4 linked regions of the Homo sapiens genome follow. The protein of the gene in region 1 purifies or fractionates together with the protein of each later gene. This does not show direct contact. Each region holds a gene or a part of one and is shown in the gene's direction. Other genes may lie near its edges.

What was found.
Region 2: the proteins of ZNF219 (region 1) and CHD3 purify together in Homo sapiens (affinity purification with mass spectrometry; 5 studies listed by BioGRID and IntAct, with this or other methods). This does not show direct contact.
Region 3: the proteins of ZNF219 (region 1) and CHD5 purify together in Homo sapiens (affinity purification with mass spectrometry; 4 studies listed by BioGRID and IntAct, with this or other methods). This does not show direct contact.
Region 4: the proteins of ZNF219 (region 1) and MTA1 purify together in Homo sapiens (affinity purification with mass spectrometry; 3 studies listed by BioGRID and IntAct, with this or other methods). This does not show direct contact.

The regions. Positions count from the first base shown.
Region 1 is NC_000014.9:21,095,346-21,103,004, reverse strand, and holds the start of ZNF219 (zinc finger protein 219), read left to right. Parts: upstream 1-4,349; 5' UTR 4,350-4,693; intron 4,694-7,659. Other genes in the region: TMEM253 (transmembrane protein 253), read right to left, coding at 226-372, 490-600, 885-941, 1,030-1,140, 1,554-1,661. UniProt on the Homo sapiens protein: Transcriptional regulator. Recognizes and binds 2 copies of the core DNA sequence motif 5'-GGGGG-3'. Binds to the HMGN1 promoter and may repress HMGN1 expression. Regulates SNCA expression in primary cortical neurons.
Region 2 is NC_000017.11:7,898,765-7,906,179, forward strand, and holds part of CHD3 (chromodomain-helicase-DNA-binding protein 3), read left to right. Parts: intron 1-246; coding exon 247-438; intron 439-578; coding exon 579-779; intron 780-1,131; coding exon 1,132-1,269; intron 1,270-1,525; coding exon 1,526-1,647; intron 1,648-1,793; coding exon 1,794-1,967; intron 1,968-2,087; coding exon 2,088-2,229; intron 2,230-2,479; coding exon 2,480-2,611; intron 2,612-3,845; coding exon 3,846-3,963; intron 3,964-4,102; coding exon of another isoform or gene 4,103-4,113; exon of another isoform or gene 4,114-4,172; coding exon 4,173-4,297; intron 4,298-4,507; coding exon 4,508-4,739; intron 4,740-5,060; coding exon 5,061-5,227; intron 5,228-5,677; coding exon 5,678-5,855; intron 5,856-6,335; coding exon 6,336-6,401; intron 6,402-6,856; coding exon 6,857-6,942; intron 6,943-7,091; coding exon 7,092-7,225; intron 7,226-7,358; exon of another isoform or gene 7,359-7,415.
Region 3 is NC_000001.11:6,100,881-6,107,330, reverse strand, and holds the end of CHD5 (chromodomain-helicase-DNA-binding protein 5), read left to right. Parts: intron 1-551; coding exon 552-715; intron 716-821; coding exon 822-936; intron 937-1,043; coding exon 1,044-1,051; 3' UTR 1,052-1,097; intron 1,098-1,903; 3' UTR 1,904-5,544; downstream 5,545-6,450. UniProt on the Homo sapiens protein: ATP-dependent chromatin-remodeling factor that binds DNA through histones and regulates gene transcription. May specifically recognize and bind trimethylated 'Lys-27' (H3K27me3) and non-methylated 'Lys-4' of histone H3.
Region 4 is NC_000014.9:105,422,459-105,429,873, forward strand, and holds part of MTA1 (metastasis-associated protein MTA1), read left to right. Parts: intron 1-7,415. UniProt on the Homo sapiens protein: Transcriptional coregulator which can act as both a transcriptional corepressor and coactivator. Acts as a component of the histone deacetylase NuRD complex which participates in the remodeling of chromatin.

The DNA.
Region 1 (7,659 bases):
ATGCTTTCCCACTCTTTTAACCTCAATCATTTGGATTCCCAGTTTCCTCTTACCCACCATTAGGGGAGAAATGTTCAAAGCCAGAGAAAGCCAATCAGTTTCATTCTAGGACCTCTTCTTTTCTCTCCTGCCCCATTATTTTCCCTTAAGTGCCACTGACCAGGATAGGCAGTGGAAAAATTAGTTGGCAGCTAGCTATTCGTGCTTTCTTCCCTGCCCCCATACCTCCTGCAGCTCTTGATAGTGCAGACTCTGGCTCCTGCAGCATCCTGGTTTCCTCTGGCTCAGCAAGAATAGGGCGTGCACTGAGACCAGCACTCCCCCTAGGGTGAAGGCCTCAGCACTGAGTTCCAGCACCAGCAAGCCAGCATGCTGCAGGTAGACAGGGCTGAGAATGCAGGGACCCCGCACCTGTTTGCCCCTGCCCTTTTCCCTTCCCACCTCCTCTTGCCTCCTTATCCTCCCACCTTCTCCTTCATTGACCAGTACCTGGGAGGAGGCAGTTGGGGCAGGCCCCAAGGCTGTCTTCATCACCTCGACCACCACCACTATGAAACCCAAGATCAAGTTGAAGGTGTTGAATATCATCATGGCCCGCACCTGCCAGTGAGCCAGCTCAGCCCTGCCCAGCCTAGGGGAGTCATTCCAACCTCAATCCCCACTTGCAGCCTAGCTGAAGACAAAACTCAGCTTCTGCTTCTCAGCCTCCAAACAGGGCCATAAGCCCTCTTAACTTTTTTGCTTTCCTCCTCAGTGATTGAGGCCAGTCAGTGGTGACAGCTGAGAGAATGAGTCAACACTTAGCCACTTACTTCCTAGGCTGAGGGTTGTAGGTGTCTGTTTTAGGGAGTGGGAGGACAGTGCTGCGTTTTCTTCCCTCTCACCTTCCAAAGGCGGGGTGCTCTGCGAAGCTCCAGAGTGACAGTCCCAGTGAGGAGACCCTGAATGGTGAGAAGGGCAAGTGTTGAGCTCTGGTCCCGTTAGGAAGGGGCCCTGGGACCTTCCACCCTCCCTTGTGGTGGGTCTTACTGAGGCTCCAGGCCCAAGAGGCAGCGCTGTGGCCATGTGACAATCAGAGTTCAGGCAGGCGACTGAGACAGCAAGGGGCACCACAACCACTGCCAGCCATAGCTGGCTCACCTGGGGGTAAGGGTAGGGTAATTGGGGAGGAACTGTCAGGGATTCCCTCCCTTCTCGTAACTCCTACCTCTTTAGAGATCAGGAAATGGGATTGAATGCAGGGTGGAGGAAAGCAGTCAACCCAGAGCAAGGACGTGATCATTAAAAATTAAGTATCATTTAATTTTTTCTGCCTCATATTGTAGTTTAGTTACTTACCTGTATGTTTTCCCCCACAAGATGGAAGCTACTTGGGAGATTAAGGGTCTTGCCTTGTTTATTTCTATGTTTTCCTCTACCCTCCTCCCATTCAGAACCTAGCTCAGTTTCTGGCACATGGTAGGTGCTCACTTAACATGGATGGATGGATGGATGGAATTGAATTGGGTAGAAGTGGACATGCTGAGACCTGGGATGGGGTAGCCTGGCCTCACCGCTAGCACCAAGAGGTGCCCACTCTGCCTGTGCCTTGCCCAGTGTTGTAGCTTTTCCAGACGAAGGCTGTGTCTCTCCTGCTCTTGCTCACCAGCTCTATCTTCCATGGCTCCTTTGCCCACAAGAATTAGGTGCTTCCTAGGCTGGGAAAAATGCGTTATAGGTTCTGTCTATTAGGAGACAGGACATGCAACAACGTATCTTTCAGCTACACCTCTGCCCACTCCCAATATCCAGGGATTTGAGGTCCAGGTCCTCACACCTACCTAGTCTGAAGCAGCTACTCCAAAGGGATGGGACCCAGCTGGGTCCTAGGTCTCCTAAGGGGCTTGATAGCTCAGAGCAGACGACAAACTTGTCCTGGCAGAGGAAGGCTGTCAGGGATGGGGTGTGGTGGGGCAAAGGTTTCTATGAAGGCCTAAGGATCTAGGGAGTGGCCCTGGGTAGATACCGGCCTCAGTTCACTCCACAAGATGTCTAGCCCGACCTCACTCTGTTCCCATTTCTCATTACCCTCATTTCTGCCCATCCTGGGTTCCTTTTCTGGTTTCACTTACCTCATCCCCATGGACACTATCACTCTGGACCTCAATTCCCCCTCATTTCCATATGATCTTACTCCTTTCTTTGGCTTCCTCCTCAAATTATGTGCCCTTCCCTAGAGATCCTACTTTCTGTCTGGATTGGTCCCCTGTCATTACTACTTGCAGCTTTGCCCCCAGACCAGGTAAGGTTGAATTCCAGGGGCTTTCTTGCCTCTCACTTTCTGGACAGTCTCCCTTCCTTCTTTCTTGAAGGTTTTACTCTGAACTGAACACTGACTCAATGGATGGGGGGGACCCTGTTTATGGTGGGGATTGTTTTTGATTCAATGATAACCTGCAACTGGACATTATCTATCTATCTATCTATCTATCTCATGGTCCTCAAATAGTGAGTCTTGGGAAGGATGCTATTGCAACAATTAATATTTTTGAGAGAGAAGGTGCCTCATAGCCAGACAGACCTGAGCTGGAATCTTAGCTCTGCTGCTTCTCCATCTGTGTGATCTTGGATACATTATTATTATTATTATTATTATATTATTGAGACAGGGGCTCACTGTCACCCAGGCTGGAGTGCAGTGGCATGATCATGGCTCACTGTAGCCAACACCTTCTGGGCACAAATAATCATCCTGCCTCAGTCTCCCAAGTAGCTGGGATCACAGGCACATGCCACCATGCCTGGCTAATTTTTAAATTTTTTGTAGAGACAGGGTCGTCTCACAATGTTGCCTAAGCTGGTCTCAAACTCCTGGGCTCAAGCCATCCTCCCTGCTTGGCCTCCCAAACTGCTGGGATTACAGGTGTGGGCCACTGTGTCTGTCCTGATAGATATGTTTTTCTACCTATTCGCACCTCAGTTTATTCACTGATAAAAGGGGGCTAACAATATGACTGTGAAGAGTTGTTGATTCAGGGTGGGTGTTTAATAACTATTAGTGGTGCTGATGAGGTCACACCGATAAGTCTGATGCCCATACACTAAAAGTGTTATTCAGAAGGAAGCTGGGGACACATTTCTACAGTCGGAAGCAGAACCAGCTGGGCCCAAATATACTCTATAGATCAAAACAAATCCCAGATCTACCTAGGTGCCCTTGGCAAGTTGCTTAATCTCTCTGTTCCCTTATCTATAAAAGGAAGTTAATAATACCAGTCTCAAGGGGTTGCTTTCAGCATGGAAGAGAGCTTAGCCCAGTACCTGGTACACAAGTGCTCAATGTTAGTGGCTATGATCATCATCACTATTATTATTTCTTGTTGTTGACGATAAGAGGAGACTGCGCCAGAAGACTCTAGAAGTTAGTACGAGGAGGGAGGCAGGGTCCTGGGAGGCAAGTGATCTTTTGTAAGCCACTCCTGCCCCATCAGTGCTGTGCCAACATCGGCGGGTCATTGTATCTACTCTTTTCTTTCCCGGGGAGTGGGAGTCACGTTTTAAAGAGATCCAGAAAACTGCTGTGTGTCTACTCCTCCTCAATTCCCACGTGCATTGATTTTATTTGGTGGCGATGTGAGATGTTGGGCTTGCACTGAGGATCCCCGAGCCTGCAGGCCACTGGGGAAACAGACTTCCTGAAGCCTCATTTTTCTTACTTGTAAATGGGGGCTAATTTAATTATAGAGGGTTATTGGAAAGATTATATACTATTAGATAGGTGAACAGGCATTCAGTAAATATTGACTAAATCTGAGTATACTACTTACCAGTTTGTAGTCTAGACTACAATCGCCTGGAAGGAAGGTACCACTTCTTTCTCATCCCTCACAGCGCTGAGCCCAGTGCCTGGCACTTAGTAAGCACTCAGTAAATATTTGTTGTATTGAAGAGCCATTAAAGTGACTTGAGGAATGGAAAATAGAATTCGAGAGGAAGGCGCAGGAATTGTTTATCAAGAACGGAAAGGACCGAAGAGTAACTTTAATAATGTTTCTTATACGGCCGACATTAACTATCTCTATAATCGCCCCTCCTCCTCCCCCAAAAGAGAGACAGAAATTGTAAGGGAGAGGCTTTGAGATAAAACCCCAGGAAGAACTTCCCGAGTCTGTGCATGTTGGGGCAGAAAGAGCGGCAGAGCCAACTCCTTCCCTGGTATGTCCGGGTTTAGGGAGGGAGGGGCAGTGCTGCTTGGAGGCTGGGGGAAGGACGAGATGACCTTTCAAAATCTCTTCCAGTCTCCTGTTGGAATCCTCTGTGCGCCCCACCCCCGCTCCCTCCCTTCCTCCCTCCCTCCGACAGCGCCCCCCGTCTCCAAACCGCCCGCACCCCGCCCCTGGCGGCCGCCTCTCGCGGCTCCCGGGGTCCCCAGCTCCCTGTCCCCGGAGCCAGAGCCCGGCTCCCGCGCGGCTCCCAGCCCCGCCGCGCCGCCCCCCGCATGCTAATGGCCGGGCCGCCTCCCGCCGCACACAATGCGGGCCAGGGCCGGGGGCGGGGGACCGGGGAGGGGGCGGGGGCCGGGCCGGGGGCGGGGGGGCCGGGGCCCGGCGCATCTCCCCCGGCCCCACGTAACGCTGACGCCCGCGCCGCCGGCCCGCCGCCCGCCGCCGCCGCCGCCGCCGCCGCCCGCTCCGCCGCCGCCCGCCCGGGGCTCGTGAGTAGCCGCTCCCCCGACTCCCGGGCCCCCCCGTCCGCCACCCGGCCCCCGCCCCCGGCCCCCTCCCCCCTCCCGGAGGGGGGGCCCGCTCAGCGCGCCCGGCTCGGAGCAGGTGCAGGGGGCGGGGGCGGGGGAGGGGCGCCGGCTCGGCCCCAAGCAAACTTCGCCCAGAGCTCCTGGGGGGGCGGGGTGGGGGTGGCGGCCTCGGAAGCCTGGAGAGCTGGGGGGCCCCAAGGGAGGGGGGGCCAGGTGGAAGAGCTGGGGGAGCAGACACCAAAGGGAAGGGCCAACGGGGGGGATGTGGCGGGGGAGGTGGCGGGTGTCTTTGTAGGGGCCCGAAGGCAGGGCGCGAGGGACCTGGGGGTGAGGGGCGGCAGAGCCGCGAGCCTGAGTGGATGTGCACCCCCCAACCCCCGGCCCAGGTAGGGCTGGTGGGGGAGGGGGAAGGAGCCCAAACTCTCTGGAAGCACGGGGTGGCGGGGGAGGGGAAAGGATGGGGGGTGCTTCCCTCTTTGCGTCCCAAACAAAGTGTCACAAAGAGCTCGGCCCGCGGCAGCAGCGGAGGCGGCTGTAACTCAGCTTTTGTTCTCCTGGCCGGGGGTAGCTGAGCCTTGGCCTCCCTATCTCCCAACCCTGCCCCCCATCATCCTTCTGGCTTATCTTCCTGGGGAGGGGTCTGGGGTGCTGCTGGAAAAACCTCTCCGGCAGGATAGCAGGTCCTACCCTACTTAGCAATCTATTTCTGGGAGGGGGATTTTCCCAGAGGCTCCCTTGATCGCCCCTACCTCCCAGTCTGAGGACCGAGGCTCACGTGGGTGCTAAGACTGACTTTTCTAGGGTCAGCTCCACTTAAAGGGACTTAGGGCTGGCTACATGCCCCTCTTTCCCAAACCCAGGTCTTCCAGAACTTTCAAAATCAAAATCGGGGTTGCGTTAGGACATGCCTCTGGGATAAGATTCCCCATGGTGGGATGGCAGCAGGTGAGCAGGTGTGCCTTCCTCTCGCCTCCTGCTGTACCTTTGAAGTCCATGGCTGAGGTTCCATGTCCCTAACTCAGGAGAGTGAGGACAGAGGGAAGGAGGCTTTACCAAGATCTCAGTCTAAAAAGGCTGGTGAGCTGCAGAGTGGAGCGGGTTAGGAGGAGCTATCTGAGCAGTGAGGTTCAGAGGGCCATGGAGAGGAGACCATAAAAGTGAACTACTGGTGTGTCTGTGTGATCAAGGTAGTCTTTTGAACGTAGACCGCCCTAGAAGCTCCCTTTCCTTTTAACCCCATCTAGTGCAGTGGTAATCATAATTGTTAGCAGATTTGGGAGGTCTAGGATTCTCAAGAGGGAAAACCATCGTGTTAGAGGTGACCAGAGGCAGTTACAACTGGACCCCAGAAGTCCTGAACCCTTGCTCCTTACACTTTGACCCTAAAAACTTTTGAATCACAAGACTTGAGGGACAGTCTTTGTGGTCCATTTAGCAAATACTTCTATGTACCTGTCCTTGTTGTTTCTAAGTCTTTTCACCAACCATTCCATCCTTCTCTACTGAGTAAGGTTTAGTGGTCCACACCCACTTCCCTACCAGCTGCCCCAGCATGTAAGGATAATTGGCCTACTGCTTTTGAAAGGTTTCTGATATCTATCCCTGGCCCCGCATCCTTATAGAATCCAAATAAGGGCAAGATAACCCCTGATTCCCAGTGGGGGTGGAAAGTAGGTCAGTGCTGCTGTCTGGCCAAGTCTCGAGGATGGTGTTTAAGGCCTGACTATAGAAAACTCTGTGATTATTGTCCAGGGGCAATATATGCATGACCTCGGTTCCAAGGCAGTTCATAGTATCCCAGTCCCTGTCAGTTCTTTCCCCTACTGAGAAAAAAATCATGGGATCAGGTGTCTGGAACCTGGTTTGATATGGAGATGATTCAGATCTTCATTGGGCCTAAGAAGGTATCTCAGTGAGTTTTGTTGATTTTAGGCCACCTTCTGGGGAAACTTTCCGTGCTGGGGAATTCAGCTTCAGTTTGGGCCTTCTTGTATATCACTCTATTTCTGTTCTGGAAACTGCTATGTGCAAAGTGGTTTATTGTTGTTTTGTTTTGGGATAGGAAGCTTTGCCCTTTTCTGACTCTTCTTGCCTCAGATATGAGGCCAGCTTCCTAAGAGATTTTGCTTGCTATCCTACAGACAGTTTTAGGGGCCCTAGAATCTTCTCAGAATGAGAGTATGTGCCCATAGGTTAGTCAGCTATGACCATGCAGTATTCCCAGCCCCCCCGCCCCACGCCTCCACCATCTGCTTCCTCTGAATATACCAGATTGGCTGTACACCAGGATGTTCCGGGAATCCCCAGGAGAGCAACAGAATGTGATGGACCCAAATATGATGCCTCAGTAACTCATTCCAGGATGTACAAACTGTAACTGTCAGGATGCTCCTTATAGCTAATTAAAATTCTTCTAGTTACATCTATTTTCTATTAGCTCTTTCTATTTTCAGTGACATCTAAAAGGCCAAAATAATCCCTCTGGTACCACTGGGTTTTTTTCTATGGTTTTCAGATAGGAACGAAAAAAAAATGCTCTAGCTTTTCTGTGTTGTATCTGCGATGCTAAAATGGCAAACAGCCCCTCTAGCACCTCATAGCTCTATCTATGGTACTGAGGTGGCCCAAGTGGCTTCTGTGGTAGCCCACTGCACTCTCCATGGTACTGAAGGGATGACCATTTGTTTTAACATCTCTCTGGGGTCCAAAAGAGTCCTGTGACTTAGAATCACAAACTTTTTTCGAGCAGGAAGGGACTAACACTATAAATTAGTCCAATCCCCTTATTTTACTGATGAGTAAACTGGGAGGTTAAGTGATTTAGTAAAGGTTGTAGGGTTATCAATGTTCAGACTAGGCCTACAATAGCCTTGTACCCTTCAGTCCTATTCTAATTCACCTTTTGTGACACTATTCAGTAAGCCTGG
Region 2 (7,415 bases), on another chromosome or scaffold:
CAGGAGCCACTAGAGATAGCCCACTGGTGGCTCTGTCACCAGCTGGCCCTTCCCCATGGTGCTGCTGGATATTGTCTTAAGGAATGAGGGGGAGGGGCTGAAGACTAGATGTGAGAACTTTTGTAAACTCAGGCCATAGTAGAGGGAATTGTAATCCAACTTGGTATCCATGCCAGGGAGGAAGAGACTAAGACTGGAGGAGCCGCCGACTATTTCCTTGAGCTTTCTGACTTCTTGTCTCTATAGCCTACCGTGAAATATGAGACTCAGCCACGGTTTATCACAGCCACTGGAGGCACCCTGCACATGTATCAGTTGGAAGGGCTGAACTGGCTACGCTTCTCCTGGGCCCAGGGCACTGACACCATTCTAGCTGATGAGATGGGGCTAGGCAAGACCATACAAACCATCGTCTTCCTCTACTCACTCTACAAGGAGGTGCTGGATTCTAGGACCTTGAAGGGGACCGCCTGGACTGGGGAAGTGGGGAGGGGGAAGATAAAGGGGTGTAGCTGGCAGAGGACTAGGGTATACGGCCTCTAGCCTAGACTTATGCTGCCCCCATTCTTGACTCCCAGGGCCACACAAAAGGTCCCTTCCTGGTGAGTGCCCCACTCTCTACCATCATTAACTGGGAGCGGGAGTTCCAGATGTGGGCACCCAAATTCTATGTGGTGACATACACGGGTGACAAGGACAGCCGGGCCATCATTCGTGAGAATGAATTCTCCTTTGAGGACAATGCCATCAAAGGGGGCAAGAAAGCTTTTAAGATGAAGGTAAGACCCTCTACCTCATATCCTCTGAGACCCTCAAAGCTGTCACTTCTTTTTCTCAGCCAGGAATTCAGTTTCTCTATTCCCCTCCTCACCTTTCTCCTCTTCCTCCACCTGTCCTCCTGTCTCTGCACTACCATCCTAGAGATATGGCAGGTACTCCCAGGGGCATACATGGATCTGTCGGTACTGGAAATGTGGGCAGAGGTTTAGGAGCCATGGTCTGTAATCCCTGCTTGGAGAACAGAGTAATGGCTCCTGTTGGGAGCCACAGTCAGGACAAGGTGTCTGGTTCTGGAGGTGTAGGTGCATGGTTGTCAGGTGGCAGCTGAATGGGCAATAATTATGTTGGCAGAGGGAGGCACAGGTGAAGTTCCATGTTCTCCTGACATCGTATGAGCTGATCACCATTGATCAGGCAGCACTTGGTTCCATCCGCTGGGCCTGTCTTGTGGTAGATGAGGCCCATCGACTCAAGAACAACCAGTCCAAGGTGAGTGAGGTTTCCAGACCTAAAAAACTTGAAGTTGTGGACTTCCCACTTGCCTTGGTCCTAAAAAACAACAAAAATTCTGGGGATTTTCTGTAGTCTGGGAGGACGTCCAGGTTGGAAGAGGGAGAGGGCCAGAGATTTGGGGCCTCTGATCCTGAGTGAAATGGGAGCTGGGGCAGGGAAAGGCTGATGCTGTGGGTCGGTCACTTGTCACTAATAAGCCCATTTTCCTGCCTTGCCTTGCCCCATCTTTTAGTTTTTCAGGGTTCTCAATGGTTACAAGATAGATCATAAGTTGCTGCTGACAGGAACCCCATTGCAGAATAATCTGGAGGAGCTCTTCCATCTCCTGAACTTCCTCACCCCAGAGAGATTTAAGTAAGTGGTTCCCTAAGGGTAGTTGGCAGAGATGAGAGGTGGAGCAGATAAAATGAGCTGGTAGAGGATTAATCTGAGGTGGTAAGTCTGAGATCAGGGGCAAGGAACTTGCCGACCTGTTAATTTTCTTCTCTTCTGGCTCTTAGCAACTTGGAGGGCTTCCTGGAGGAGTTTGCTGACATATCCAAAGAGGACCAGATCAAGAAACTGCATGATTTGCTGGGGCCACACATGCTGCGGAGACTCAAGGCAGATGTCTTTAAGAACATGCCAGCCAAGACAGAGCTCATCGTTCGGGTGGAGCTAAGCCCCATGCAGAAGTAAGATGCAAGACGAGCTGCCTGGAGTAGGGCTTGGGGATTGATGGGAGCGTTCCAAGTGCAATATCATAATTGCTTCCTTTATTTATGTTTCTTTTACACCCCTTTCCTGGCCTTTAGGAAATACTACAAATACATCCTGACTCGAAATTTTGAGGCCTTGAATTCACGAGGTGGTGGGAACCAGGTGTCGCTGCTTAATATCATGATGGATCTTAAGAAGTGCTGCAACCATCCATACCTTTTTCCCGTGGCTGCTATGGTAGATACACAGAGCAGGGAGCTGATCGAACGCCCATTCTCAGAAAACATGGGTGGGGAGTAGTGGGGAGGTGGGTATTGAGCCACAGGGGTGGAGCTGGGCTGGAAGGCCACGGACTGGGTGTCTGAGAACAGGAGGAATTGGGAACATGTGGAAGCTGGATCCGGGCATCTGGCCTTCTAGGTGTGGCAAGAATATGGGGGCATGTTTCCAACTGACCCCCTCCTCCTCCTCTCTCCTCCCTTTTCAGGAGTCCCCCAAACTCCCCAGTGGGGCTTATGAGGGTGGGGCACTTATTAAGTCGTCTGGGAAGCTCATGCTGCTCCAGAAGATGCTGCGAAAGCTGAAGGAGCAAGGACACCGAGTGCTCATCTTCTCGCAGGTGACCTGTGCCCTTAGCTGTCTTTACATCTGCTTCCTCTTCCCTCTCCTCATCCTCCAGACTTTAATTTCTTACGGTCTTCCTGTGGCTGCTCTGGTGTGACAAATGAGGAGATTCCTCCTGTAAGAGTTTTTTTTTTTTTTTTTTTTTTTGAGACAGAGTTTCGCTCTTATTGCCCAGGCTGGAGTGCAGTGGCACGATCTCGGCTCACTGCAACCTCTGCTTCCTGGGTTCAAGTGATTCTCCTGCCTCAGCCTCCCAAGTAGCTGGGATTACAGGCGTGCACCACCATGCCTAGCTAATTTTTGTATTTTTAGTAGAGACGGGATTTCACCATGTTGGTCAGGATGGTCTCCATCACCTGACCTCAGGTGATCTGCCCGCCTCGGTCTCCCAAAGTGCTGGGATTACTGTATAGCAAGTTCATTCTTGGCCTCTGATGCCTGTTCTTAAGGTTGCTGGAAGTTGAGGTCCAGCTCTAGTTCCTTTTCAGCTGCATGAGGGAAGGGGGAGGGTGAGCCATCTGCCTCCTTAGGGACTGGTATTATTTCTTCATCTTATTGGCAGGTGAGGGTGAAGGGCACAGACCCTTTGGAAATGTGATGAAAGCTCTGGGTCTACTCACCAGAAAACTGCACATACAATGACACAATTTTGTACGGATTTTCAGGGGGTTCCTGGATTTCCCTGAAACCTTTTCATGGGTCTCAGAGAACCTCTGCCTTAGGAGAAACAATCTTAAATCAAGAGAGTGTGACAAGAGGGCCAGACGTGGTGGCTCACACCTGTAATCCCAGCACTTTGGGAGGCCGAGGCAGGAAGATCACTTGAGGTCAGGAGTTTCAAGACCAGCCTGGCCAACATGGTGAAACCCTGTCTCTACTTAAAATACAAAAATTAGCTGGGCGTGGTGGCGCACACCTGTAGTCCCAGCTACTAGGGAGGCTGAGGCGGTAGGATCACTTGAACCCAGGAGTGGAGGTTGCAGTGAGCAGAGATGGCACCACTGCACTCCAGCTAGGGCAACAGAATGAGACTCCATCTCAAAAAAAAATAAAAATAAATAAAAATAAGAAAAGAGAGTGTGACAAGAAGGTGGAATAATGAGGAGCTTAAGACAGGGCAGGGGTTCAGGTGTAAAGATTAGGGTTGAGTTTGTGTAAAGGAGTAGTTAGAATAAGCAAGCATCCCACCACCTCATTATTGCAGACTCCATCCTTTTCTCTTGCTCTAGATGACCAAAATGTTAGACTTGCTTGAGGACTTCTTAGACTATGAAGGCTACAAGTATGAGCGCATCGATGGTGGTATCACGGGTGCCCTGAGGCAGGAGGCCATCGATCGGTTTAATGGTGAGGGAGATACACTGGTCCCTGGTGGGTGTGGGAGGCCTGAGAAACCTGTGATAGGTCCCTGGGATGGGAGGGGGACTGGCTTGGGGGACATTGGAAACTTAGGCTTTGAGTTGGGGGCATGGTTGTTTGTCATCAGAGAACATCTAGGAGCAGGTGGACAGAACTACCGGGTACAAGAAAAACCTGATCCAACTCTCACCTCCTAGCTCCTGGGGCCCAACAATTCTGCTTCCTCCTGTCCACCCGAGCTGGGGGCCTGGGCATCAATCTGGCCACTGCTGACACTGTCATCATCTTTGATTCTGACTGGAACCCCCATAATGACATCCAGGTGGGAACTCGCATCCTAGAACCCCTGCACCATTTAGCAAGGAGATGTGGGTTCATGGAGGAGGGTGTCATGTTCCGGGGTCAGAAATAAATCTCTTCTGGGAGGAGAGAAGGCCCTTCTTCAGCAGCCTTCTTTCCTGAGGCAGCTCTATGGGCAGCTTCTCCCCGGCCACTCCCCTGACCCACCCGCCACTTTCTCTTGCCCCTGCAGGCCTTTAGCCGGGCTCATCGGATTGGCCAGGCCAACAAAGTGATGATTTACCGGTTTGTGACTCGCGCGTCAGTGGAAGAGCGAATCACACAAGTGGCCAAGAGAAAGATGATGCTGACACACCTGGTTGTGCGGCCTGGGCTGGGCTCCAAGGCAGGCTCCATGTCCAAGCAGGAGCTTGACGACATTCTCAAATTTGGCACTGAAGAGCTATTCAAGGATGAAAACGAGGGTGAGAACCTTTTCTGCAGCTCTGTGAAAGCAGGCCCCTGCTCTCTCAGGAGTACTTATCAGCCCCCTGGGGAGAGAAAAACAACTCTTCTCTGCAGCCTTTGAAGGAAGGAGAGCCTTCTTTTAGTAGCCCTTGGAGGAAGGTTGGCCTCTTTCTTTGCCTGTAGGGTTAAAACAAACAAAACAAAAACCTTTCAACATTGGCTCCCGGGGAAAAAGCCTTCTCTAGGGCTCCTGTGAAAAGGACGCAGAGTAGAAGCTTTCCCATCAGCCTTTCTAAACTTTGGAACCCAAAGTTCCCGTTTGTTTTCCCTCTCACCAGGGGAGAACAAGGAGGAGGACAGCAGTGTGATTCATTATGACAATGAGGCCATCGCTCGGCTGTTGGACCGGAACCAGGATGCAACTGAGGACACTGACGTGCAGAACATGAATGAGTATCTCAGCTCCTTCAAGGTGGCACAGTACGTCGTGCGGGAAGAAGACAAGGTGAGAGGCTTTGGGGGCCAGACATTATCTATCCCAGGCCATCTCCAAAAGGCAGTATCCTTTACTCAGCCTTGAAGTAGGAGGGTCTGTCCCCCTTAAAACAGTAGTGGACCTCAAACAACTTCTTCGTCTAATAGGTGAGACTGGACTTCAGAGAGAAACGTAGGCACAGACAGTACTGGTAAACACAGAAGGGTACCTTCTGAGACAGTGCAGGAGAAACACTGTCAGAGGGATTAGAGGAGAGATTTAGAAAACATGAGGAGAGCACATTGCAGGTAAGAGATGGCATGGAACATGCGCAATGTCCAGAAAATGTATGCAGAGCCACGAAGCTGCAGGAGTGGGGAGACCGGATTGGGCTGACGCAGCAGAGTAGGGATTTCCTTGCAGTGGAAGGATTAGCAAAGAAGGAGACCCCCAGTGTTCATTCATTCTGTTGCCCTTCAGATTGAGGAAATTGAGCGAGAGATCATCAAGCAGGAGGAGAATGTGGACCCTGACTACTGGGAGAAGCTGCTGAGGCATCACTATGAGCAACAGCAGGAAGACCTAGCCCGGAATCTAGGCAAGGGCAAGCGGGTTCGCAAGCAAGTTAACTACAATGATGCTGCTCAGGAAGACCAAGGTGAGGACTGCCCCAGATGCAGGCAGTAAAGGGGGGAAGTGATGATGAGTAGGGACTTGAAGGCTGGAGCTATTTAGAGGGAAAGAGAGAAGCCTAGAAGTCAGAGCCTTCCTCTGCTAAAAGGGAAAGACATAAGGTAGAGTCATTAGGAACTACCCAGAGGCCAGGTGGGTTTGCAGGAGATTTAAACTCTTCGGTGGTTGCACAGGCATCCTGTGGACACCCAGGGCCATTGCTTAGAGTAGGTTTTGCAGGAGAAGCAGAGGGGCCCAGAGACTGAAGGTGGGCGGTGAATGGAGATGGTGTAGGATATGCGGCTCCCAAGTCAGACTTTGGGCAGTGATCTGGTGTTCCCAGAAGGACCAAGGCCAGAATAAAGGTAGACAAGTCTCGGCAGGGAGGAATCCAGCCAGAAAGGGCCTCAGCATGGGCATATCCCGAGAGCCCTCCCTGACCACTGGGCCCTTTCCACCCCCACAGACAACCAGTCAGAGTACTCGGTGGGTTCAGAGGAGGAGGATGAAGACTTCGATGAACGTCCTGAAGGTGGCATCTGTGTTCCTGACTCTACCTCACCTCTTCCCGTTTTATTTTCCAGTTTGCTTTAAGCCCACTGTTTTTATACAAGTAAAAAAGTCTTCGTGTGTGTGTGGAAAAACTCGATTGCAGATGAGCAGAAAGGAAGAAATATTCATAGTCTCTCTGCTAGTAAACTTCGGTGTGTGTGACCACATAGGCTAGATCCAGAAAGGCCATATCATTTTCCATTCCCACTGGTAATCTGGGCCTTTGTCAGATATCAGCTGTTAATTTTAAAATATGACTGGTTCTTTTAGACTTAGTGGGTTAGTAGTTCTGAAGTGCTTGGGAGAGAATTGGGAGCACCTCAAACGTGACAGGAATGTTCCTGTGTTGTGTATCTTGTGGGAATGGGGTGCTAAGGAGGACTGAGGCTTAGAGGAGGTGGTGGCTCAGCTAACTGATGTCATCCCCACCCTCAGGGCGTAGACAGTCAAAGAGGCAGCTCCGGAATGAGAAAGATAAGCCACTGCCTCCACTGCTGGCCCGAGTCGGGGGCAACATTGAGGTGAGAGCTGGGCCCAGTGTTCCTGAGTTCTCCAAGAGGGCATGAGGGCAGGAGGTTGGAAGTTGGTGCCTGGATCACTGAAGGTAGAAAGGACAAGACCTAAGAACCCTAGACATTTGTCGCCATTGCCTCCTTGCTCCCACCCTCAGGTGCTGGGCTTCAACACCCGTCAGCGGAAGGCTTTCCTCAATGCTGTGATGCGCTGGGGGATGCCACCACAGGATGCCTTCACCACACAGTGGCTGGTGCGGGACCTGAGGGGCAAGACTGAGAAGGAGTTTAAGTGAGTGTGGGTGATACAGGGCTGAGTTGGACGCAAGGGGAAGAGCTTTGGGTGTTCCTTTCTTCCTTGGGGCCGCCATATGATGTGACCTTACTCAACTGATTATCACCCTCCCTGTCATACAATACTTCCTGGCTCGATTTCCTGGGGGGTGGTCTCAGCCCACTCCACCTCCCCTCAGCCGAGCCTA
Region 3 (6,450 bases), on another chromosome or scaffold:
AACCATCATCCTTTCATCATCCCTCCATCTCTCCACTCCGCCATCCCACCATCATCCCTCCATCTCTCCATCATCCCTTCATTATCCCTCCATCCCTCCATCATCCCTCCATCCCTCCATCATCCCTCCATCCCTCCATCTTCCCCCATCCCTCCACCTTCCCTCCATCCCTCCATCTTCGCTCCATTATCCCTACATTATCCCTCCATCCCTCCGTCCTTCCACCCCTCCATTCGTCCGTCCTTCCACCCCTCCATCATCCTTCCATCGCTCCATCATTCCTCCATCCCTCCATCTTCCCTCCATTATCCCTCCATCATCCCTCCATCATCCCTCCATCCTTCCACCCCTCCATCCTTCCACCCCTCCACCCCTCCTCTCCTCCATCCCTCCACCCCTCCACCCCTCCATCCCTCCATCCTTCCATCCCTCCATCCTTCCACTGCTCCACCCCTCCACCCCTCCACCCCTCCATCCCTCCATCCTTCCACTCCTCCATCCCTCCACCCCTCCATCCCTGCATCCTACCATCCCTCCGCCTCCCACCACAGTCCTGAACCAGCTGGAGGAGCTGCTGAGCGACATGAAGGCCGACGTGACCCGGCTGCCATCCATGCTGTCCCGCATCCCCCCGGTGGCCGCCCGGCTGCAGATGTCGGAGCGCAGCATCCTGAGCCGCCTGACCAACCGCGCCGGGGACCCCACCATCCAGCAGGTCAGGCTCGGCCTGTGTGCCCCGGCCCGAGCCCCCTGGCGTGCCCCTGGGTGGAGGCTGGGTGGGGGGCCTGAGACCACCTGTGAAGCTGAGTCCTTGCCTCCAGGGCGCTTTCGGCTCCTCCCAGATGTACAGCAACAACTTTGGGCCCAACTTCCGGGGCCCTGGACCGGGAGGGATTGTCAACTACAACCAGATGCCCCTGGGGCCCTATGTGACCGGTAGGTGCCCGTCCGCTCCGGGCAGCATGCACACGGGTGCCCGCCGGGCCCGGCCTGCCTGCTGCTGCCAACGTCAGGCAAGCCCGGCTCTCCTCTTTTTTTGACAGATATCTAGCCGTCCTCGAGACTTCCCTGTGTTGCAGCGCTCATTTCCAGCTGAGGTGAGGGCTGCTGGGTGCTGTGTTCCTCCCCGCCACCCCATTGCTGGCAAACCAGGCCTGGCCACAGTCAGCCCTGCCCCTGCACTTGACTCCCGTCCCTAAGTCCTGGAGCTTTTACTGCCTCCGGCGGCTTTGAGAGCCACCCACCTGCCTGGAGCCCCTCTACCTTGCCCCCTTGGCCCTGGGACCACCTTGTGGCCAGCGTGTCTGTCCACTGGGAGGCTGGGGTGGCAGGACATGAAGGGGTCGGTGGACTTGGGTGAGCTCCTGTGTGTGCACATGTGTTCTCATTTGCACACATGTTCCCAGCGGAAGTCAGAGACTGCTGCCCCCGCCTGGAGCCCTGTCCTGCCCCTGCTGTCCTGCTGGTGGCAGACATCACATCTTGTCTTACACCCTCACTTCCTGCCCAGGACCAGGAGGGTGGCTGAGGGTTTTGTGGGGGCTATTGGCCAGGAGAGGGGGCTTATTTCAGAGAAACTGCCAGTTCATTCTGGTCTTCTCTGGGGCCACCAGCCTCCACTACGCTGTGTCTGTCCCTGTGGGAACCGTGTCTTGCTGGAGGAGGCTCCAGAGGGGCTTCCTGGCTGGCTGCCCCTGCCCACTGCTGCTTCCTGGGTGCTCTCGGCACTCTGGGTGTAGCTCATGGCCTGGCCCGGCAGCCTGTGGCTGGGAGGTCATGGCTGGGGGGCACCCCGATCATAGTTGGTTGTGATAGGTGGAGAAGCAGCTACAGGCTGTTGGGTGCCACCCTGATGCCCCCTATAACTGCCCACCTGCTTAACCCACTGATTTGCGTTTTGCAGCCACGCCTGCCGGGCCACCTGCCCGACCCACATGGGAGAGAAAAGCTGCCACCTTTTTAGGAGCCAGCGCCACCTTGGGACAAAAAGGGAAACCTAGTAATGCCATCACATGGAGGACGAGGCCCAGCTCAGCTGGGCCAGAGCCCAGAAGTGCCACCTCATCATAATTCAAGTGTTCTTCCACACAGCGTTGCCCCCACAACCACGCCGGACGTGCCCCCTCGCCACCTTTTCCAGACGACTTCTTAGAAGAGATTTCATTTATTTGTACATCTTTTGCACTTTCCTATTGAAGACTTGAACACGTTTGTCTTGATAAAAGTTGGATGACGTATGGAAGATTCGAACCTGCAGCACTGATGTCTCTTTACCGATGGGTTCCAGACCCAAGGTAGTCCTGGCACTGCCCTGTGGACTCAGCCCAGCTGGGGAGGACATGGCGCCCGGTGCCCTAGGAGCCCTCAGTGTCCCCTACCTGACCTGTCTGCACCTGTGTGACAGCCCCTTCTGATTTGGCCCCCTGCCCGCTTGGAGCCTCCCAGCACCAGACAGGGCAGGTTTGGGGAGCCGCTGTCCAGCCCTATGGTGAGACCCTGGCTGACATTTCCCCTCCTTCCTGCCAAGGCTGGAGGCCGCCAGGTGTTTGCTCTCTCCTTGTGGGGAGGTGGATCCTCTGCCAGCAGGTGTCTGTCCCCGGCCCAGCGCATCTTGAAGGCCCTGGACTCTGTTACCAGTGGGGGGCCTGTGGCCCCGGCTCTTCACAGCAGGCAGAAGCGTATGATCCCAGGGAGGGTGGGCTGGGGGGGGGGCAGCACTTGCCTCGGAGCCACTGCTGCGTTGGGTTTGCCTTCTGCCAGAGGTGTGGTTAAGGGCAGTGATAGCTGCGCCCCAGCAAGGAGGGTCATGGGCCCTGAGCTGGCCCAGGAGACCCTGGCCCTGCCCTGTGCCCTGGGATGCCTACCCTGCCCACCTCCGGAGGTGGAACCGGGCTGCCCCTGGGGGCCTGGACTTGTCCCATTCCCCTGTCCCTGGAAAGGCCTTCCCGGGGGCTTTTTGCCTGAGGCTGCACTCTTGGAAGGCGTGGGGAGAGTTCTGCCTGGAGGGGGACTGGACCCAGTGCCCTCTGCAGACCCCTCCCAGCCGCAGCACCAAGGGCTTGCTGCCTTGTTTCCTGCCAGGAGCGCCCTGACATCCCAAAACCATCTTCCCACATGTGGGTTGTTGGAATCCCACCCACTCCCCCGGACCCTGCCCCTCCAAGTTGGGGACGGAGATGGGGAGCAGGTCAGGCCCTCCCTAGGCCTGTTTGTGTGTGATCCTTCTCCTGGCCCCAGGTCGACCTGGAAGGCGTTTCTGAGTCTTGTACTGGGACCTTCCCAGGGAAGGTGCCTTGGGGTGCAGAATCCTGGGAATGTTAGGAAAGGGCTGCGTGAAAAACCCAGCTGGGCCTGGGGTGGAGGTGCACACGGGCTGGGGCTCAGCTCCTTGGAGAGGGCCTGCCTGGGACTGAGGGGGCCAGGGCTGGGTCAGGATTCACCAGCTTGTGTTGCAGACACTGGAGCGATTGCCTGGCCCTCCCTAAGCCCTATATGCCTCACTCATAATGAGGCTGTCTCTGAACCCCGGAGGGCGGGACCTACAAGTCCTTCCTCTTGGCGCATTCCCACACTCCAGTCTGGATCCAGGTCTGCAAGGCCAGCCCGACCCTGACACTGCACGTGGGCGTAGTGGGGAGCACCCTGGAGTGGAGATGATTGTCAGCGGGCTCACATGTTATGGTTCATCCACATGCGTGTTGTGTGCTCTGCGGTGCCTCCTGGCAAAGGGTCCTGGCTCGGGTCAGAAGCTCACTCCCGTGCCCTCGTCCCCAAACAAGCAGTGGCAAGCACTGGGGTTGGCCCTCGTTGGGAGCAGTGCCCACCTTCCTTGGCCCACAGCAGATAGGTCCCGAGCAGCAGGACTGGAGGCCTGTGGCGGTCAGGGCAGGGGTCTGTGTCTCCACCCCAAGGGCTGATGGTCCCTCCCCTGTGCGCCTTCCTCTCAGGCAGGCTTGCTCTGTCCCTTCCTCTCTGCTTCCCTCCCAGGCCTCGCCAGGGCTCCCTTCTCCTCTGCCTGGTTAGACTCGGGCACCCAGGAAAGCCTGGCCAGGGCTCCTTTGGGCCTGGGCCCCCTGCACTGCCTGGTCCAGAAGGGGTGGTGCTGTCCGTGGCCAGCACCCCGGGGCCCGGGAGGGGTGGGCTACTAGAGTCAGAGCGGGTTTGGGGCTGACCAGTTTGGGAGAGGAGAAAAGATCTGAGAATGTCCTTCTTGGTTTGTCAGTCATCTCTGCCAAAAGTGGTGATGGTGGTGTCCGTATGTTTGGCGTCTTTGGGCTGGGTTTGGTTTTTGCTGCTGGTAGAATCAGGGTCCTCGGGCATGAACGCGAGCCCAAAGTGCCAGTCTGCGATTGGAAATTTCCAGCCACTTTAAGCCAGTGCTGAGTAGGGCTTCTGCAGAGCCATGTTTGAGCCAAGGTCTTGGAAGGCATTGCCCCATGGGCTCAGGTGACTCGGGGTGGAGTGAGCACGTCTGCAGGGCCCTCTCATACACGCCTGAGGCAGAAGCAGCGTCCCCCGTGAAAGCCACCTTCCGAAGCTCCTGCGTTTTTTGCAAACTTGGCTTCCCCCAGGGGCAGGCTGGACTTTCCCTGCCCCCTATGATTGAAGTCCTCCTGCTTTTGGGGGCTGCCTTCCCAGAGTCCCCCGGGTGCTCCCCTGCCGAGGTCAGGAGCTGACCAAGCCTTGGCCCGGTGACACCTGCAGCCCTCACTCCTGTCATCCCAGGACACTTGAGGCCCAAGGAGGTGGAGTGGAGAGTGGGCTCGGGTACATGGGAGCCAGAAGCCAGATGGACTTGGTCAAGTGTCGGTCACTTGGAGCCTCCAGTGTGCGTCAGGGTCTGTGGGCAGGGGACAGGGCGTGGGTGGGGGCCGAGGCTGGCACGCCCCTCTGCCCTCACCGTCTTGGTGACCTGGCCTCGGCCCCTCCCCCAAGTCTCTTCTGTGCAAGGCCCGCCTCGGCCTCGGCAGCTGGTTCCTGTCCTGTTTTCTGTGTCTGAAAGTTTACAGGTTGTGGTGCATCAGCCCAAACTCACTGGCGTTGTGTTTTTTTTTTCTTTAATTTTCAGATTTTTTTTTTAAACAAAGTATTTTTTTAGGTGCGATAACCCAGAAAGGGCCCGTTGGGTGTGTGTGTGTGTCCTGAACTCCTCAAGCAGCGATTGGAGCCCAAGCACCCCTGGAGAGGAAGGGAGGGTCCCCACTGGCCCGTGGGGTCTGAGTTCAGGGGTGTGGAGGGAGCAGACTCCACCGGCCCAGGCCCAGCTAAGAGGGGGCCGACCCCTTTCCCCAGGCACAGCCCCAGGCTGGCAAAGGGAGGGCCCTGGGCTGGGTGCAAGGCGCGCCAGGAGTCCCAGCCAGGGTGGCCCCGGCGGGGGCGGGTCCAGCTTTGGAAGCCAGGCTCCCCTGTGAGCCGTGGCTTGTCTGGTCTTCGCCCACGGGAGGCTGGACAGAGGCTGTAGCCAACACAATCACCTTTACTTTGTACTCTGTGTGTATGTTTTGGTTTTCTGTGTTTTAATAAATCCTTTGGGAAAGGATTTAATCAGAGGCTTTTTCTTTTTAAGATTCAAGATTTAGAATGGGGGTGGGGGCTGGGGCCAGGGAGGAGTGGTGGGGGGTGGGGGCGTGTCCGGAAGCCTTCTCTTGCCTGGGATGGTCATTTCACGGGTGCAGGGGCTCACTGGGAAGGAGGGGAGCCCGAAACAGGGGTGTGCTGGGGTGAGGCCCCTCTCACCTGTACCCCAAACACATACCATGAGAGCTTCCCCAGGCCTGGACCTCTGTCCTTATGAGAACAGCAGCCAGCCAGGTCCCCAGAGGGACAGCAGCCTCCCAGCAAGCAGCTTTGGGCCCTCAGAGTTGGTGAAAGAGAATGTGTGTGTTGGGGGCGGCAGGGGAGGCACGCACCCTCCCTTGGCTGAATCGCTTGGGAGAGATGGGGGACAGGTCTTCTGACCACCCTGTCCCCATTCTCTGTCCCCGCTCTCTCTCCACGGGCCCTTTCCAACCCACCTGCCCTTGGCTGCAGGCTCCGGTTTGGGGGATGCCCCAGGCCCTGCTGCTGGCAGCCTTTTCCTCCCCTCCCGTGTCACCCTGGCCCAGCCCTGACCCTGAGGAAATGAGAGGAGCAAAAAGTCACAGAGACCGATGGGTTTGGGCTTTATTTATTTTGTCATTCCATAAATACGGTGGCTGTGTCGCGGTCTGAGTCTCGTTTGGAAGCTCGAGGCATAGGACAGTCTCTGCCTGGGTAGGGAATGCAGTTAGCTGAGGAACCACGGTAGGTTTAAAAAAAAAGACTCGGGGAGAGAAAAAGCACATTATTTACATGACTGGACAAGGACAGAAGGTGGGAGGAAGCCCCTGTCACTCCTTGGGACCTGGGATCTGAGCACAAAGCTGAGTGGGAAACAGTGGGGGCTCCGAAGCGTCCAGCAGGGCCAGCGCC
Region 4 (7,415 bases), about 84 Mb from region 1:
TGTGGGAGATGCCGGCAGGGACCCAGCCTGGGAAGGGGCTTGCTCCTGTGCCCCCCCACCCCAGGGACCTTGTGTGTAGAGGCACCAAATTTAGTTAAGAAAAGTACAGGACGCCCAGGCAAATTTGAGTTTCAGATAAACAGAAATTTATTAGTGTAAGTATGTCCCAAATATGGCATGGGACATACTTGTCCCAGAAGATTCTTATCTGACATTCACAGTTATCTGGGCAACCCGTATTTTAGCTGGCAGGCTACTCCGAGGCCCTGCCAGGTTGGGCTAGGCAGGGTGAAGGTGTGGTGGCAGTATTTTTGTGCCAGCTGAGCTGGGTGAAGTGGTGAGCAGGGAGGGAACAGGGCCTGTTTCTTCCCCATGGAGTGCCCTGGCCACGGACAGAGGCCTTCTGTCTGTGCCTGTGAGGGCAGCGGATGGCCTGGGCAAGGGTGGCGGGGTCAGGGTTCCCTGACCTCTGCTTCTCAAGGGTTGTCCATCCCGAGGGCTGGGGAAGGCTTGAAACCTGCTGTGGGATGAGAGGGCCCCAGGGCAACGGCGGGATGTTTCTTCTCTGGGTTGAACATGAAGATGTTAGATAGCATCCAAAACAGGACAGCAGGAATCGGTGCCTGCCAGCCGCCTGCAGCTTGCTCATGTGGGGCTTCTGCTTTTCAGTGGACAGGCCATTACCATTTTGCCTTGGGTGTTTCTGTTTTTCATTGCAAGAGGTTAACACCCCATCTTTTGGATTTTTTTTGTTTAATTTTTTTTTTTTTTTTTTTTTTGAGATGGAGTCTTGCTCTGTGGCCCAAGCTGGAGTGCAGAGGCGCGATTTCGGCTCACTGCAACCTCCGCCTCCCCGGCCCAAGCGATTTCCTGCCTCAGCCTCCCAAGTAGCTGGGACTAGCCAGGCGCCACCAGGCCTGGTTAAGTTTTACATTTTTAGTAGAGACGGCGTTTCTCCATGTTGGTCAGGCTGGTCTGGAACTCCTGACCTCAAGTGATCCACCCGCTTCGGCCTCCGAAAGTGCTGGGATTACAGGCGTGAGCTCATGCCCGGCCTTTTTGTTTTAATTTTAATAAAAGTTGAGGCTGGGTGACAGAGTGAGACTCCGTATCAAAAAAAAAAAATTTTAATGTAGTTTGAAAGGATGCCAGAAAGCCCCTGCCCCTGCAGGGCCGCGGGCTCTGCCCCGGTCTCTGGCGCAGCCTGGGCGGAAGCACCCTGTCCGTGCTGCTGGTCTTCACTGGGCTTGGCATGTGCCATCATCTGCGCTCTGGCGCGCTGTTAGAAATGTTGCTTTTGTATTTTTATTCTAGTGTTTTTTTGAAGTTTAAACTTTATTGCTCTATATACTTGCCAGTGGGGAAAAAAGTAAACTTAAAAAAAATGTCAGATTTGTAGAGGGCTGCAGCCAGCGCCGCCCTACCCTGGAGTGCTGAGTGCACCGTGTCCCTAGGCACTTGCTGCTCCATGGGCCGACTTTTGGGGTCCCACCCATCTTTTCCAAGAAGGCAGGGAAGAGCCCTGGAGACACGGCCGTCCTGTGAGCACCAGGAGCGGGAGTGGTAGAAGTGGCAGGGGCCCAGGTGTGATGTCCTGGAGGGGATGGCATGGGGCTGTCCCACTTGGCCTGTGAGGATCGGCCTCAGCACTGCGCCATTGGCAGCCCTGGCTCACTCTCCAGGCAGGATGGGCCACTGAGCTTCTCCTGCCTCAGCCACTGAGCACTCCTGGCTTGCTCCACCTTTGTTTTTTTGAGACGGAGTCTCGCTCTGTCCCCCAGGCTGGAGTGCAGTAGCGCAATCTGGGCTCACTGCAAGTCCGCCTCCCGGGTTCACACCATTCTCCTGCCTCAGCCTCCCAAGTAGCTGGGACTACAGGCGCCCGCCACCATGCCTGGCTAATGTTTTGTAATTTTTTTTTTTTTGTAGAGACGGGGTTTCACTGTGTTAGCCAGTATGGTCTCGATCTCCTGACCTTGTGACCCACCCGCCTCAGCCTCTCAAAGTATTGGGATTACAGGCGTGAGCCACTGCGTCTGGCTTTTTTTTTTGTTTTTGAGACAGTCTCACTCTGTCACCCAGGCTGGAGTGCAGTGGCACAATCGCGGCTCACTGCAACCTCCGCCTCCTGGGTTCTAGTGATTTGCCTGCCTCAGCCCCCTGAGTAGCTGGGATTACAGGTGTGCACCACCACACCTGGCTAGTTTTTGTGTTTTTAGTAGAGACAGGGTTTCACCATCTAGGCCAGGCTGGTCTCGAACTCCTGACCTCAAGTGATCCACCCGCCTCGGCCTCCCAAAGTGCTGGGATTACAGGCGTGAGCCACGGTGCCTGGCCCCATATTGTTCTGAGTGGAGAATTTGATCGTTAAGCTCTCAGAATAATAAAAAAGTAGCTGTCAGTGAGAGATGTTGGAATATATGGTCCAATGAAGCACATCCCTCGCGCCCGACCCGCCCTGGCAGTGCCGTTCCCGCCCGTGTGTGTGGGTTCTGGGTGTCAAAACTGCTGCAGTGGCCCTGCAGGCATCCTACCTAGAGGTGGGTCCCCAGCTGCGCATCTGGACGCTGGTCAGCAGGTGAGGCTGGGATGCCAGAGGAGGTGCCGTGTGCCTGGCCAGGTACCCGGGAGGCGGCTTGGGGGAGCACTGGCTGCAGGGCCTCCTTCCTCCTCCTGCTGAACTTGGAGTGCTCTTGCCAGATTATGGGCTGAGTCCTGCTAGGGAGGGTGGCCCCCCTTCCCCAGGAGGAGCCCACCCTGAGACCTGGTTGGGGGGCAGCTTAGACCCTACCTTAGACTCCAGCAGGCTGTCTTGGGAGCATGTAATTATGTTTTTTTTGAGACAGGGTCTCCTGTTGCCCAGGCTGGAGTGCAGTGGCACCATCACAGCTACTGCAGCCTCCACCCCACAGGCTCAGGCGATCCTCCCATCTCAGCTTCCTGAGTAGCTGAGACCACAGGTGCACACCACCATACCCAGCTAATTTTAAGATTTTTTATAGAGGCGGAGTCTCACTATGTTGCCCAGGCTGGTCTCGAACTCCCGTCCTCAAGCGATCCTCTTGCCTTGGGCTCCCAAAGTGCCGCTGGGTTTGCAAGGCTGTGAACTACCATGCCCGGCAGAGCATTTAATATTCTCCAAATGTCTTTCCTCGTGTGCTACCTGGGCTCACTGCTTTCTGGGGCTCTCGTGTTGCTGGTGTCTCCACCCCCACCCCCACCCCAGCTGGCCTGCTCCATTCCTGTCCCGGTGGGCTCATGTCTGAGTGTGCGGACTGGGGGATCTTGGTGGCGATGGAGCCAAGCCCAGGGAGGCTGGGGCCACCCTCATAGTGCAAGGCCACCCAGCACCTCGCCCCTATACCCCACCCGCCCCACCAATGTGCCCCCGGCACCCCCGAGCCCAGGCCCCAAGGCTTGCTTCTATGGGCTTTGCACCACCCTCTAGGCTGCTCCCGCCTGGGCCATGCAGCGCACCTGAGGGGTCTGAGGTGACCGCTCCTCAGAGCCGCCCGGCAGCCTCCCTGGGGCGGGCCTCAGCACTGCAGCCCCGTGATCCGGCCTGGCGTGGGCTTTGCTGCTTTCTCTGCCCGGTGGCCTGAGGAGCTCGAGTGCCCGCCTGCCCCCAGAGCCCTTTCACGGTCAGGGCCTGAGCTCTGTGGGTGCCATTAGGAGGAGGGTCTGCAGATCTGTGCGGTTGGGGGACCCCTGGGGCATGGAGGGGACCACGCGTCCCTTCCCGTCCGTGCCCTGCCAGGCTGTCCTCACAGCAGCGTCGTCACAGGGGAGGAAACCAGGGCAGCGGCAGCGGCTCCTGGTACCAAGCATACCTTAAAAATGAGCCCATGGATGTTGCAGTGAGCCGAGATCACGCCACTGCACTCCAGCCTGGGTGACAGAGCGAGACTTCGTCTCACAAAAAAAAAAAAAAAAAAAAAGAGCCTCAAGGCCTGTGCAGTTGGTCAGCGGTGGAGTCAGGTATGGGGCACACCTGATTCTGCCCTGGCTCATCCCCTGCCTTCAGAGGACAGCAAGGGCGCAGCGCACGTGGGGGCTGGCCCTGAGGTGTGGCGTTCTCTGGGCTGGGCTAGGGCAGTTCTGAGGGAGGGGCGTGTTCTGTCCCATTCCTCCAGGAGACACAGTGCCTGGGCCATCTGGCCACTTGCATGAGGGAACGTCTGTCTGCATCCCCTGGGGGCCGCTGTCCCCATCCCTTGACTGCCGGATGCACCTCGGATGCTGGGGCTCTGGTCTCCGATCCTTCTTGGACTTTGTGGGGACAGCAACGGAGGAGGATGACCCCAAGGATGGGCCGGGCGCGAGGCTTGCAGCAGTGCCCAGGTTTTGCAGATAAAAATACAGGACACCCCTGCAGCATTTGGGACGTTGTCACATGGAGACCCGGCTCCTGGAGCAGGGGTGCTGGGGGCTTTCCTGACCACTGTTGCTGTTTCTCTTGACTCTGTTCCCAAAAGGGAAAAGACAAAGTTCCTCTCTGTGCTCCCTGGTCTCCTGTCTCTGACCATGGCAGACCTGGCTGTGGGTGAGCTCAGGAGAGTGGGCTGTGCCCTGGAGGGTCCCGGACAGGCAGGGACCACGGGCACCGCCCTGCCGCACAGCTCTTGTTGCTCAATGATCTTGGGGGTTGTGTCTGTTCTCCCCCAATTCTTCTGTGGCCCCATCCCCTATTTGTTAAAACTTACGTGTAACCCCAAAATTCACACTTATGTCACTTTCCCAGTCATTTGCGGGCACGCACAGGCTGCTAAAAGCCCAAGTTGCGTGGTGCTTGGGTGCCTGCTGGGGTGAGCGAGGCACCCTGCCCTCTGCCACTGCTCCCATGTTGGAAGCAAATTGTCCTTTCTCCATCTACTGAGGGCCATGCTTCTTGCATTTGGGGGCTCTTGGTGATTTTGCTTTTTAGATGCCCCTGGGGGAGGTGCCGCAGTGCTGTTGAGTGTCCCTGGACACAGGCAGGCTGGGATGGGTCCCATGGAGAGAACGTGTGTTGGACAGGCTCTGCCCCACGTGAGTTCAGTGTCGGAGAACAATAATAATTATAAAGTTCTTTGACAGAAACGTAAAATAAGGCTGTTGCGTATTGATTGGTTGCTGAAAATGTTGTGACCAGAGGCTCGTAGGAACCTGACCCTGTATTTCCTGTAGGAACAGAGGTACGGTGTTCAGTATTAGTGGTGACTTTATGGAACGTAATTACTGCAAACAATGAGAATTGACTCTGGGTGCGTGTATATTTTTTTAACTTAAAGTAAGGTTTAGGCCGGGCATGGTGGCTCACACCTGTAATCCCAACACTTTGGGAGGCTGAGGTGGGCAGATCACTTGAGCTCAGGAGTTTGAGACCAACCTGACCACACAGCAAAACCCCATCTCTACTAAAAATACAAAAAAAGCCAGGCGTGGTGGTGCGTGCCTGTAATCCTAGCTACTTGGGAGGCCGAGGCATGAGAATCACTTGCGTGCAGGACGCAGAGGTTGCAGTGAGTGGAGATCGCACCACTGTACCCCAGCCTGGGCAACAGAGTGAGACTCTCTCAAAAAAAAAAAAAAAAAAAGTTAGGTTTATTGAGATACACGTTTCACATGGCAAACCCACTTATGTGTAGGGGCCTGTGGTTTTCCACTCATGCACAGCTGTGTGGTCGCTGCAGCTCTTCCACACCTGACATGCTTCTCTTGTGACCTTCTGTAGTCAGCCCCCTCTTCTCCCCCAGCTCCCAGCAACACTGACCTATTTTCTGTTCCTGCCGTTTTGCCTTGTCCAGAATGTGGTAGAAGTGGAATTGCACAGCATGTGGGCTTTTGAGTCTGGCGTCTTTCTTTTTTTTTGAGATAAGGTCTCAGTCTGTCACCCAGGTTGGAGTGCAGTGGTACAGCCATGACTCACTGCAGCCTCCACCTCCCAGGCTCAAGTGATCCTTCCACCTCAGCCTCCTGAACAGCCGGGACCACAGGTGTGCACCACCACACCCAGCTAAGTTTTTCGTTATGTTGTCTAGGCTGGTCTCGAACTCCTGGGCTCAAGCGATCCTCCCACTTCGGACTCCCATAGTGCTGAGGTAACAGGAGTGAGCCACCATGCCCAGCCTTATAGTAATTCTTGAAATCAAGTAGTAGGAATCCTTGAACTTTGTTCCTCATTTTCAAAATTGTTTAGCCTGTTCTGGTTACTTGGCTTTCCCTTACAGAGTTTAGAATTGGCTTGTTAATTTCTACAGAAACCAAAAAGAAGTGTTTCTTTTTTTTTTTTCTTTTTTTGAGACAACATCTTGCTCTGTTGCCCAGGCTGGAGTGCAGTGGTATGATCTTGGCTCACTGTATGTAGCCTCAGTCTCTTGGGCTCAAGTGATCCTCCCCACTTCAGCCTCCCGAGTAGCTAGGACTACAGGCATACGCCACCATGCCTGGCTAGTTTTATTTATTTTTGTAGAGATGGGGTCTCACTATGTTGCCCACACTAGTCTCAAACCCCTGGCCTCAAGTGATCCTCCTGCCTTGACTCCCAAAATGCTGGGATTACAGGCATGAGCCATTGTGCCCAGCCTCACCTTGCACTTTTATGTGGTAGAAATGGCTTCTTTCCTTGAACTTCATGGGCCAACTTCTGCTAGCTTCAGATTTTTCTTCTGCAGCCTCCTCACCTCCCTCAGCCTTCGTAGAACTGAAGGGAGTTAGGGCCTCGCTCAGGCTGGGGCTCTGGCTTCGGGGAATGTGTCCGCTTTGATTTCCCATCCCGGCACTTCAGCTTTCTCTCTATCAGTACTAAGGCCGTTCAGCTGTCTTATCAGGCTTGTGTTCACTGGAGCAGCACTTTTTGTTTTTTGGAGATGAAGTCTTGCTCTGTCGCCCAGGCTGGAGTGCGGTGGCACGATCTCGGCTCGCTGCAACCTCCGCCTCCCGGGTTCAAGCGATTCTCCTGCCTCAGCCTCCCAAGTGGCTGGGACTACAGGCACCCACCACCACACCCGGCTAATTTTTTTTTTTTTTTTTGAGACAGAGTCTCCCTCTGTCACCCAGGCTGGAGTGCAGTGGCACGATCTCGGCTCACTGCAAGCTCCGCCTCCCAGGTTCACGCCATTCTCTTGCCTCAGCCTCCCGAGTAGCTGGGACTACAGGTGCCCGCCACTATGCCCGGCTAATTTTTTGTATTTTTTTAGTAGAGACGGGGTTTCACCATGTTAGCCAGGATGGCCTCAATCTCCTGACCTTGTGATCCACCTGCCTCAGCCTCCCGAAGTGCTGGGATTACAGACGTGAGCCACTGCGCCCGGCCTTTTTTTTTTTTTTTTTTTTTGGTGACCAAGTCTCGCTCTGTCATTCAGGCTGGAGTGCAGTGGTGCGATCTTGGCTCACTGCCACCTCCAGCTCTCGGGTTCAAGTGATTCTCCCACCTC